Linked DNA regions of Homo sapiens: all the other regions are linked to region 3. The links come from fine-mapping of genetic effects on gene expression. A gene starts in region 3. Each other region holds a variant in brackets. All regions are shown on one strand. Distances are from middle to middle.

Region 1 (2,840 bases), 71 kb after region 3:
CTGGGCGTGGTGGCTCACGCCTGTAATCCCAGCACTTTGGGAGGCTAAGGTGGGCAGATCATGAGGTCAGGAGATCGAGACCATCCTGGCTAACACGGTGAAACCCCGTCTCTACTAAAAATACAAAAAATTAGCCGAGCATGGTGGAGGGTGCCTGTAGTCCCAGCTACTCAGGAGGCTGAGGCAGGAGAATAACATGAACCTGGGAGGTGGAGTTTGCAGTGAGCTGAGATGGCGCCACTGCACTCCAGCCTAGGCGACAGAGCGAGACTCTGTCTCAAGAAAAAAAAAAAGATGTTATCATCAATACTCTGGAAAGAGACCCCTCTGGCAGGGCTGGAAGCACAGGTCTACCATCAGTGCTCCCTACTCTGGAAATCTTTGCTTCCCTTGGCTAGTTGCTCACCTCCTCAGCCACGATCTCACTTCTTGTTCAAAAGCCTGCACTTCACTCTCACCTAGATGAAGTTCTCACTCCTCTATAAAATGGAGGTGATAACAAGAGCTCCCCAGAGAGGACTATGAGGCTGCATGATGCATGACAGGTCCCAAGCACAGAAGTGGACCGTGTTGGGTTCAGAGTCCACGCTAATAAACTACAGCCCCTGCGGTTTGATGCCAGCTCCGCCCTGACTCACCGTCAGAAAGCTGTCTTCATTCTAGCTCAGCTCAAAAGGCAGAAGGTCAATGGGATGTTAGGCTGGATAAAACAACTCCATACCATGTCCCAAACCTGGTTCCAGTACCTAGAGAGAAGGCGACTCTGGTCTGCCTTGTGGCAGTTTAAGCTCTGGTGTTTCGTGGGTGCTTGGGGGCTGCTCCCAGACTGGTGAGGCTTTGAGGGAAAGGGGGACTCAGAGCAAGTGAGGATGCCTGCTGTTCCCTGGGAGAGGCTGGCAGCTGCTTAGCCTATGAAAGTGCTTAGTGTGGGATGAATGACTGTCACAATAATGATCATTATTAATTGATGGTGGCACCTGGGTCCCTAAATGGTGACACCTGCCTGGTCCATGATGGGGTTCTAGGCAGCAGTGCTGAAGGGAGGATGGAGGAGGCATTTCTGGGCACAAGGAGACCCTCTGCCCATGGGCAAAGCTGAGACAACTGACCTGAACCTAAGATTCAAGTGCCTGAACTGAGTCCTAGGGTTCCTGGGGCTTAGGGCCAGGGCACCTAGAACTGCCTCTTCTGCCAAGGCCTTGGGGAAGATCTGCATCTCCAATCAGCCCAAATCCTGCAGAGCTGGTC[G/A]AGTGTCTGGGTATCACCATTCCTCACCCAGGGATAGAGGCAGGACACCCTCTCTGATGAAAGATTTAGAGCTCAGGAAGTGAAATCTTGCCAGACTCATCTTCTGAGCCCTGGTCAGATGCTCTGCCTCCTGGAAGCCTTCCAGGCTGAGTTAGTTGTTCATTCTTCTGGGTTCCCACAGATTTTAGATAAACCTTGGTCCCTGGTTGTGTCTCAGCATCTTTAAGCCCTGGAGTTTGGCAAGTCTGCGTATGTACTCCAGCTCTGTCTGCCCTCTACTAGCTGCGTGACCTTGGGCAGGTGACGTTACCTCTCTGAGCTTTGGTTTCTTTACCAGGAGGGTAGACTAACAGGGGTGCTTGATGCATCAGCTGTGAGACTTAAATGAAATGCAATAGGTGGGGCAATTAGCCCTCTGGCACCCCAGCCCACCTGCACCTCTCTGTCCCTCACTCAGCCTTAGAGCCTGTTCTGGGCTCTCTGCAGGCGTCTGCGGTTGCTGTGTCCTTGGCCCAAGGATACCTGGAATCTTTCTGTGCCCTTGGATGAAAGAGCTGCTTGCTTGTTGGGGTCCAAAGAGAGGTGAGGACTGGCCAGAGCTGTCCAGTGGAGGCAGAAGGCCTGGGCAACACCTGCAGGGTACTGGGGTGTGCCACCTGCTATCCCCAGGAAGCAAACTCATGAATATTCACACCACTGGAGTGGGAGGGAGCCAGCCAGCTTGCTGCTGGGTGTCATTGGAGCATTCCTGTCTCCCAGTGATCGCAGAGGCAGCCTGGGAGTTGGACGTGGCTCAGGCAGTGGGTAGAAAGGGGCAGCCAGCCACAGCCCGAGGTGAGTGTGTCTCTTTTGCTCCACCACAGGGGTTACAGGGAAAGTAGGATACCCTGAGACCTGACTGGTGGTGATGCTCTAAGCCAGAAGGTTTACCATCCTGGGCTGAGTTTCCCTTTGTGCATGATGTGGGGGAATAAGTCCTGTTTCTCCTTCATTCCCTGGAGGGCATCAGTTCAGCTAAACAGGAGGATGGCTGGGCCTGGCCTGCTGCCAGCTGCCTGCACTGATGCAGGCCAATGTGATGGGCGTAATCTAGAAGGGCAGGAATAGATGGAGTGGGCTGGTGACGGGGGGACCGTCCATCCTGAGTGCCTGCAGTTGTCACTACTGTGGGTGGAGGAGGTGGGAGACCCAGGTTCTAGTCCTGTCTCTGCTGCTGCTGGGCTGTGTTACCCCAAAGGTATCCTTGCCCTCTCTGAGTCTGAGCCTCCCTGCCTCTTTGTCTTCTGACCCTGAGGCTAGGAGTCTCTGGCTACATTGAGATCATCCCTGGACTTGGCTGCCTGCAAGCCTCCATCGTGGGCCAGTGGGCACACACTTTGATGGGGTTGTGGCTGGGACCCTGGGAACGTAATGATGATAATGATGATAACAATGATGGCAGGCCCTGCTGAGTGACTGTCTGCTCTGCACCAGCCTCGGGCTGGGTGCTTTCCCTGTGGAATGCAGAGGATCTGCACAGCACCCTGTGATGGAGGGTCAGCTGGTACAGGTTGAGTATCCCTTATCCGAAATGCTTGGGACCAGAAGTGTTT
Region 2 (2,500 bases), 81 kb before region 3:
ATCAAATTTTCAGAAAGGTAAGGATAGAAAGAACCCCAGACATCACCTAGCCTAGTCCTCTCACTCTATAGATAAAGAGGCTAAAGGATGTGATCGTTAGAAGGGAGGTTAGAGGCTGTGACAGACTGAAGCATTTCTCCTGTTTCTTTCTGCCATCCCTGAACTACAATTTTAAGTGCACAACTTTTGCCACTGGACTTTGTAGGATCCTCTAAAATGGGGAATGGATATCTTCCCACCCTACTGATATTGGACAGGGCCACATGCCTTGATTCAGCCAATGGAATGTGGAATGGAGTGAGGGTGTGCAGGCTCAAGCTGGGATGCTGTGACTCTCGATTACCCTCCTGTACTTCTGCCATCACAACAGGAAGACACACCTCCTAGCTTACTCCCAAGTGCCACTGCCTGAAGGAGACCTGGCCTGGTCATCTGCGGACCCTCAAGCAAGAGAAAACCACTGCTGCTTTAACCTCAGAGTTTAAATCACCACTGGGCAATGTGTTTTGAAGTTGCTTGATCCAGGAGGACAGGTGAGCTGAGGACTCGATTCTAACTCCCGCCCACCCTCGCCTGTCAGAATGCACACACAACCCATTGTCACTGAGGTGTCAGAGTAGAGCAAGGGATCAGCAGGAGATGATGATGCTGGAGAGGCAGAGATGAGGCCAGTCCTGAGGGGGAGTCATGTTGGCACATATTTGAGATGAATAGAAGATGAATAAGGAGACTCTAAGTGTCAAAATAAGAGTCTCAACCAGCAATCTTTGTCATCAACCTAAGGATCTGCTTTTGACTTCCATCTGCTTTCTTACAGGCTATGGCAATCATTCTTTTTGTAAGTACAGGGCTTTATAGCTAGTGAGCAAAGCCTAGAGATGTGAGAAGGGACTCTAGAGGTCCACTTTCCTGGATGTAACTTCCCATCTGGTCCTGGATGGCACAGCTGCAGCTGGACAGTAAAACATGTGTCATTTCCCCTTAGTGTAGG[C/T]GTTTTTCAAAAGGCCTTGATTTTTTCCCTGTGTCAAATGATCTTTGGCAAGGATGCCAAGATGACTCAGTGGGGGAAAGGACAGTCTCTTCAACAAATGATGTTGAAAAAACTGGATGTCCTTGTGCAAAAGAATGAAGTTAGACCCTTATCTCACACCATATGCAAAAATTAACTCAAAATGGATTAAAGACCCAGCAAGGTGCAGTGGCTCTTGCCTATAATCCCAGCTACTTGGGAGGCTGAGGTAGGAGAATCACTTGAGGCCAGGAGTTCAAGATCAGCCTGAGCAACATAGCGAGACCCTGTCTCTACACACACACACACACACACACACACACACACACACACACACAAAAACAGTAAAATTAAAACAAAATAGATTTAAATGCCTAAATGTAACATCTGTACAACTCCTAGAGAAAACCATAGGCATAAAGTTTCATGACATTGGATTTGGCAATGATTTCTTGGATATGACACCAAAAGCACAGGCAACAAAAGCAAAAACAGACAAATGGGACTCCATCGAAGGACACAACTTAAGTTCCTTGAAGGACACAATCAACAAAGTAAAAAGGAAACTTATGGAATAGGAGAAAATATTTGCTAATCATATATCTGACAGTGGGTTAATGTCTAGAATGTAAGAAGAACTTCTACAACTCAACAACAAAAATCAAATAAATGATTAAAAAATGAGCAAAGGGGCTAGGCATGGTGGCTCACACCTGTAATCCCAGCATTTTGGGAAGCTGAGGCGGGCAGATCACTTGAGGTCAGGAGTTCGAGACCAGCCTGGCCAACATGGTGAAATCCCATCTCTACAAAAATACAAAAAATTAGCCAGGCGTGGTGGTGGGCACCTGTAATCCCAGCTACTCAGAAGGCTGAGGCAGGAGAATTGCTTGAACCTGGGAGGCGGAGGTTGCAGTGAGCCGAGATTGAGCCATTGCACTCCAGCCCGGGCAACCATGTGAGACTCTGTCTCAAAAAAACAAAAAACAAAACAAAACAAAAAAACAAACAAACAAAAAAAGGATTTGAACAGACATTTCTCTAAAGATGTTATACAAACGATCAACAAGCATATGAAAAGATGCTCAGCCAGGTGTGGTGGCTTATGCCTGTAGTCCCAGCACTTTGGGAGGCTGAAACAGGCAGATCACCTGAGGTCAGGAGTTCAAGACCAGCCTGGCCAACATGGCAAAACCCCATCTCTACTAAAAGTACAAAAATTAGCTGGGTGTGGTGGCAGGCACCTGTAATCACAGCTACTCAGGAGGCTGAGGCAGAAGAATCACTTGAACCCAGGAGGTGGAGGTTGCAGTGAGCCGAGACCATGCCATTGCACTCCAGCCTGGGCGACAAGAGCGAGATTCTGTCTCAAAAAAAAAAAAAAGAAAGAAAGAAAGAAAGAAAAGATGCTTGTGGTTGGGCATGGTGGCACAGGCCTGTAATCCCGATACTTCGGGAGGCTGAGGTGGGATACTTTGGGAGGCTGAGGTG
Region 3 (2,840 bases):
TTAGCGTGGTGGTGTGCACCTGTAGTCCCACTTACTTGGGAGGCTGAGGCAGAAGAATCACTTGAACCCAGGATGCGGAGGCTGTATTGAGCTGAGATCTCACCAATGCAGCCTGGGTGACAGAGCCAGACCCTGTCTAAATAAGTAAATAAACAAATAAACACGAGTTGGGCCTCCAGAGCCTGAGTCTGGGGCCTGGAACTCACTGAACTGTTGGCCCTCTCTGAGCCTCAGTTCTGCTTCCTCCACAGCCATGAACCTCAGTTTCCTCATTTGTAAAATGGGACAACAGCCATACCCCTCACAGGGCCATCCAGGCCATGCACCCACCCGGACCCCCACCTTCTCAATTGGCCACCCAGGCACTTACTTTGCTGAACCGACTTGAGTCCGCGGAGGCAGGTGGCTGCGAGCAGGAAGCCACAGCCGGTAGGGGGTGTCCGGAACTCTCCAGCCAGGCTGCAGGCGGCCCCCAGGCAGAGCGGACCCATGGCGGCCAACTGAAGTGGGTGGTGGCGGCGGCCCAGCAGCAGCGCCGACAGGGCCAGGGTGAACAGAGGTGTGGTGGTAGTAACCAGTTGTGCCAGGTCCAGGGGCACAGCCCTTAGGCCCACGTTGCCGCAGGCCATGGACGTGCCAAAGGTGAGACTGAGCAGTAGGACTCGGCAGCGAGTGCCGCCTGGCATGGGGCGCCGTGCCCCCCGGTGGCATGCCAGGGCTGCCACCAGCATGTGCAGGGCCGACAGCAGCAGGGGCCGCCCAAAGCCGTGCACTGTGAAGATCCACTTGTTGAGGCTTGACATGCTGGCTCCCGCCAGCAGCCACACCAGTGCTGCCATGGCCACTCGGGCCCGGCCAGGCTGCCGGAGGGCCTGAGGGCTGCCAGGGGGCCACTCGGGGGGCCCAGCCGCCTGAGCACCACCAGCTGCTGCTCCTACTTCGGCTGAGGTCATCCTGCCATCATGGTGCTCCGGCGGGCAGCGGCACATCCGCACCAGTGAGGCTAGGGCAGGAGGCGGGCTCCCCAGTGACGACCTCTGGGCCACCAGAGAGTTCCGCTTGGGGCCAGGCTAGATCCTGGTTCCTCCGACCCCGTGTCCCGTTTCAGACAGGTGAGGACACTGCTTACTTGTGCCAGGCCTGTGCCAGCGATGTCTAGAAGCTAAGCTGTGTTTCCAGCTCAGACAGGGCAGAGCCAAGGTCGCGGCTGCTAGGATGCCAGGGTCTCCGATGCTCAAGCGTGGGCTCCAGGCACCTCTGCCCCGTGCCAGGTGGTCTCCACTTTCCTCCTCGCCTAGTGCCCACGTTATGCTTTTAGATGAAATCCTCGTTCCTTTTTTCTCTTCAGTCCCCAGGTCATTAGGGTGCGCGCAGATCCAGACCCTGGGAACTCCTGCGTGCTCTGGCCGTGACCAGGCCTGGCAGGGGGGCGATCTGGGCTCCGCGCCTGGCGGTGCCCGGCCCGGGGGGTCGCGGGCTCGCTGCCTCCCACAGCGCCCGGGCAGTGAGCTGACACCACGGCCCGTCCTCCGGCCGGTGCCTGGCGGCGAGCTAGGCGCGGATCCAGCAGGGCCTGCGCTCCAACTCCTGCTCTCTGAGGCTTTGGCTGCGGCTCTGGCTGCGGCTGTGACTCCGGCTGCGGCTCCTGCTGCGACTCACGCCCGGCTCCAGCTCAGGCCCGGCACGGCGGGCGCGGCGGTGCGCTCTTGACTCCGCCTCCGCCTCTGCCTCCCCCGCCGCCGCCCGCTCCCTACACGGAAAATTGGGCTGAGCACCCCAGCCAAGCCCCGCCCCAGGCCAAGCCCCGCCCCCGGACCGGGAGGGCGGTCTTGCCCCGCCCCAACGCCTCCCGCTCACAGCCCCTCCCCCATCGGCCTGGCATTTCCCCCATCAGCCCTCCTCCGCCCGGGGCCTGCGCATCTGCCCAGTAGACCCCCCCACGAGCTGGCGTGGTCAGCCTCTCTTCGCCGCCAGGGGGGACCAAGTCGCTCCCCACCCAGCGCCAAGGCGAGCCCTCCATGGAGATGAACGCGCATTGCTGGAGACACTGGGGTATCCCGCACAGCCGCCCAGGCTATCTTCAAGAAGCAGGGTAGTGAGGAGGGGCCCACAGCCCCCATCCTAGGACCAGTCTTACGCCCACCTGATCTCTGGCCACAATTATCTCGTGGGACCTCAGCATCCAGCAGAGCTGGATTACGGGGTCCCTTAAGGCACCTCCATCGCCCCTCCGTAGCCCCAGCATCCTCCCCAGCCTCCCAGTCCAGGGCGGCGCCCCCTGGGGACCCTCAGAGGGAAGCTGAATCACCAGGCAGGGATACCCACAGCTGCGGAAGTAGGTACCGCCGGCCGGCATCCTTCCCCGGCCAGCAGCCTCTGTCCGGTCCCCTGAGCACTCGAAGCTGACTCATAGCAGAACTTCCTGGGGTCCACCCTGTGCCCCAGCCCCGGCAAGACAGAGCCCTGGGCTGGGAGGCAGAGCGGTTGCCACTGAGCCCTTGTTCCTGTCTGGGTCTCGGTTTTCCCACCAGAACGACAGACGCTCTCTGAGGTCAGGATTGGGTAAACGGCGCGCCCCAGGGCAGAAGAGGTCCATCCAGATTCCAGGCTAGGCCAGGCCCTGGCCCCTCTGAGCTCTGAAGTCCGGGAGCACGAGGACCAAGGCCCAGCCATGTGCCCAGTATCAGATGTGAGCCTCTTTCCTGTTGTCGGTCTTCCTACTAGGCTCCTGCCCAAGAGGACCCAGCTCACCCCTTGCCTGTTGTCTAACCAGCAAATCCTTGATGACAGCAACCTGTCTTGAGACACAAGATCTCAAAGGGGTACCGCTGAACCCAGCC

Which allele goes with the higher level. Alleles are on the strand shown, and positions count from the first base shown. SD is a standard deviation of normalised expression in the study named. Not every link is listed here.
As copies of G replace A in region 1, the expression in sigmoid colon of the gene that starts at base 1,659 in region 3 goes up (small effect, 0.37 SD a copy in GTEx).

What was found.
Region 1: its variant is fine-mapped to the expression of SLC35E4 in sigmoid colon (GTEx, PIP above 0.99).
Region 2: its variant is fine-mapped to the expression of SLC35E4 in fibroblasts (GTEx, PIP above 0.99). The same link has a PIP of 0.9 or more in adrenal gland.

The regions. Positions count from the first base shown.
Region 1 is chr22:30,564,067-30,566,906 of GRCh38, reverse strand. The region is part of intron 1 of GAL3ST1 (galactose-3-O-sulfotransferase 1); the gene reads left to right. Among named protein-coding and RNA genes, the nearest start is that of GAL3ST1, 9.2 kb to the left of the region's middle. RefSeq lists a silencer at 1,278-1,478. The variant G/A (reference allele first, on the strand shown) is at 1,249.
Region 2 is chr22:30,715,938-30,718,437 of GRCh38, reverse strand. All of the region lies in intron 1 of OSBP2 (oxysterol binding protein 2), which reads right to left. Among named protein-coding and RNA genes, the nearest start is that of MIR3200, 14 kb to the left of the region's middle. RefSeq lists an enhancer at 391-1,590. The variant C/T (reference allele first, on the strand shown) is at 992.
Region 3 is chr22:30,634,600-30,637,439 of GRCh38, reverse strand. SLC35E4 (solute carrier family 35 member E4) reads right to left here and starts at 1,659. Exons shown (of 2, transcript NM_001001479.4): 1 at 371-1,659. The coding sequence starts at 989. RefSeq lists a silencer at 1,452-1,901 and an enhancer at 2,233-2,840.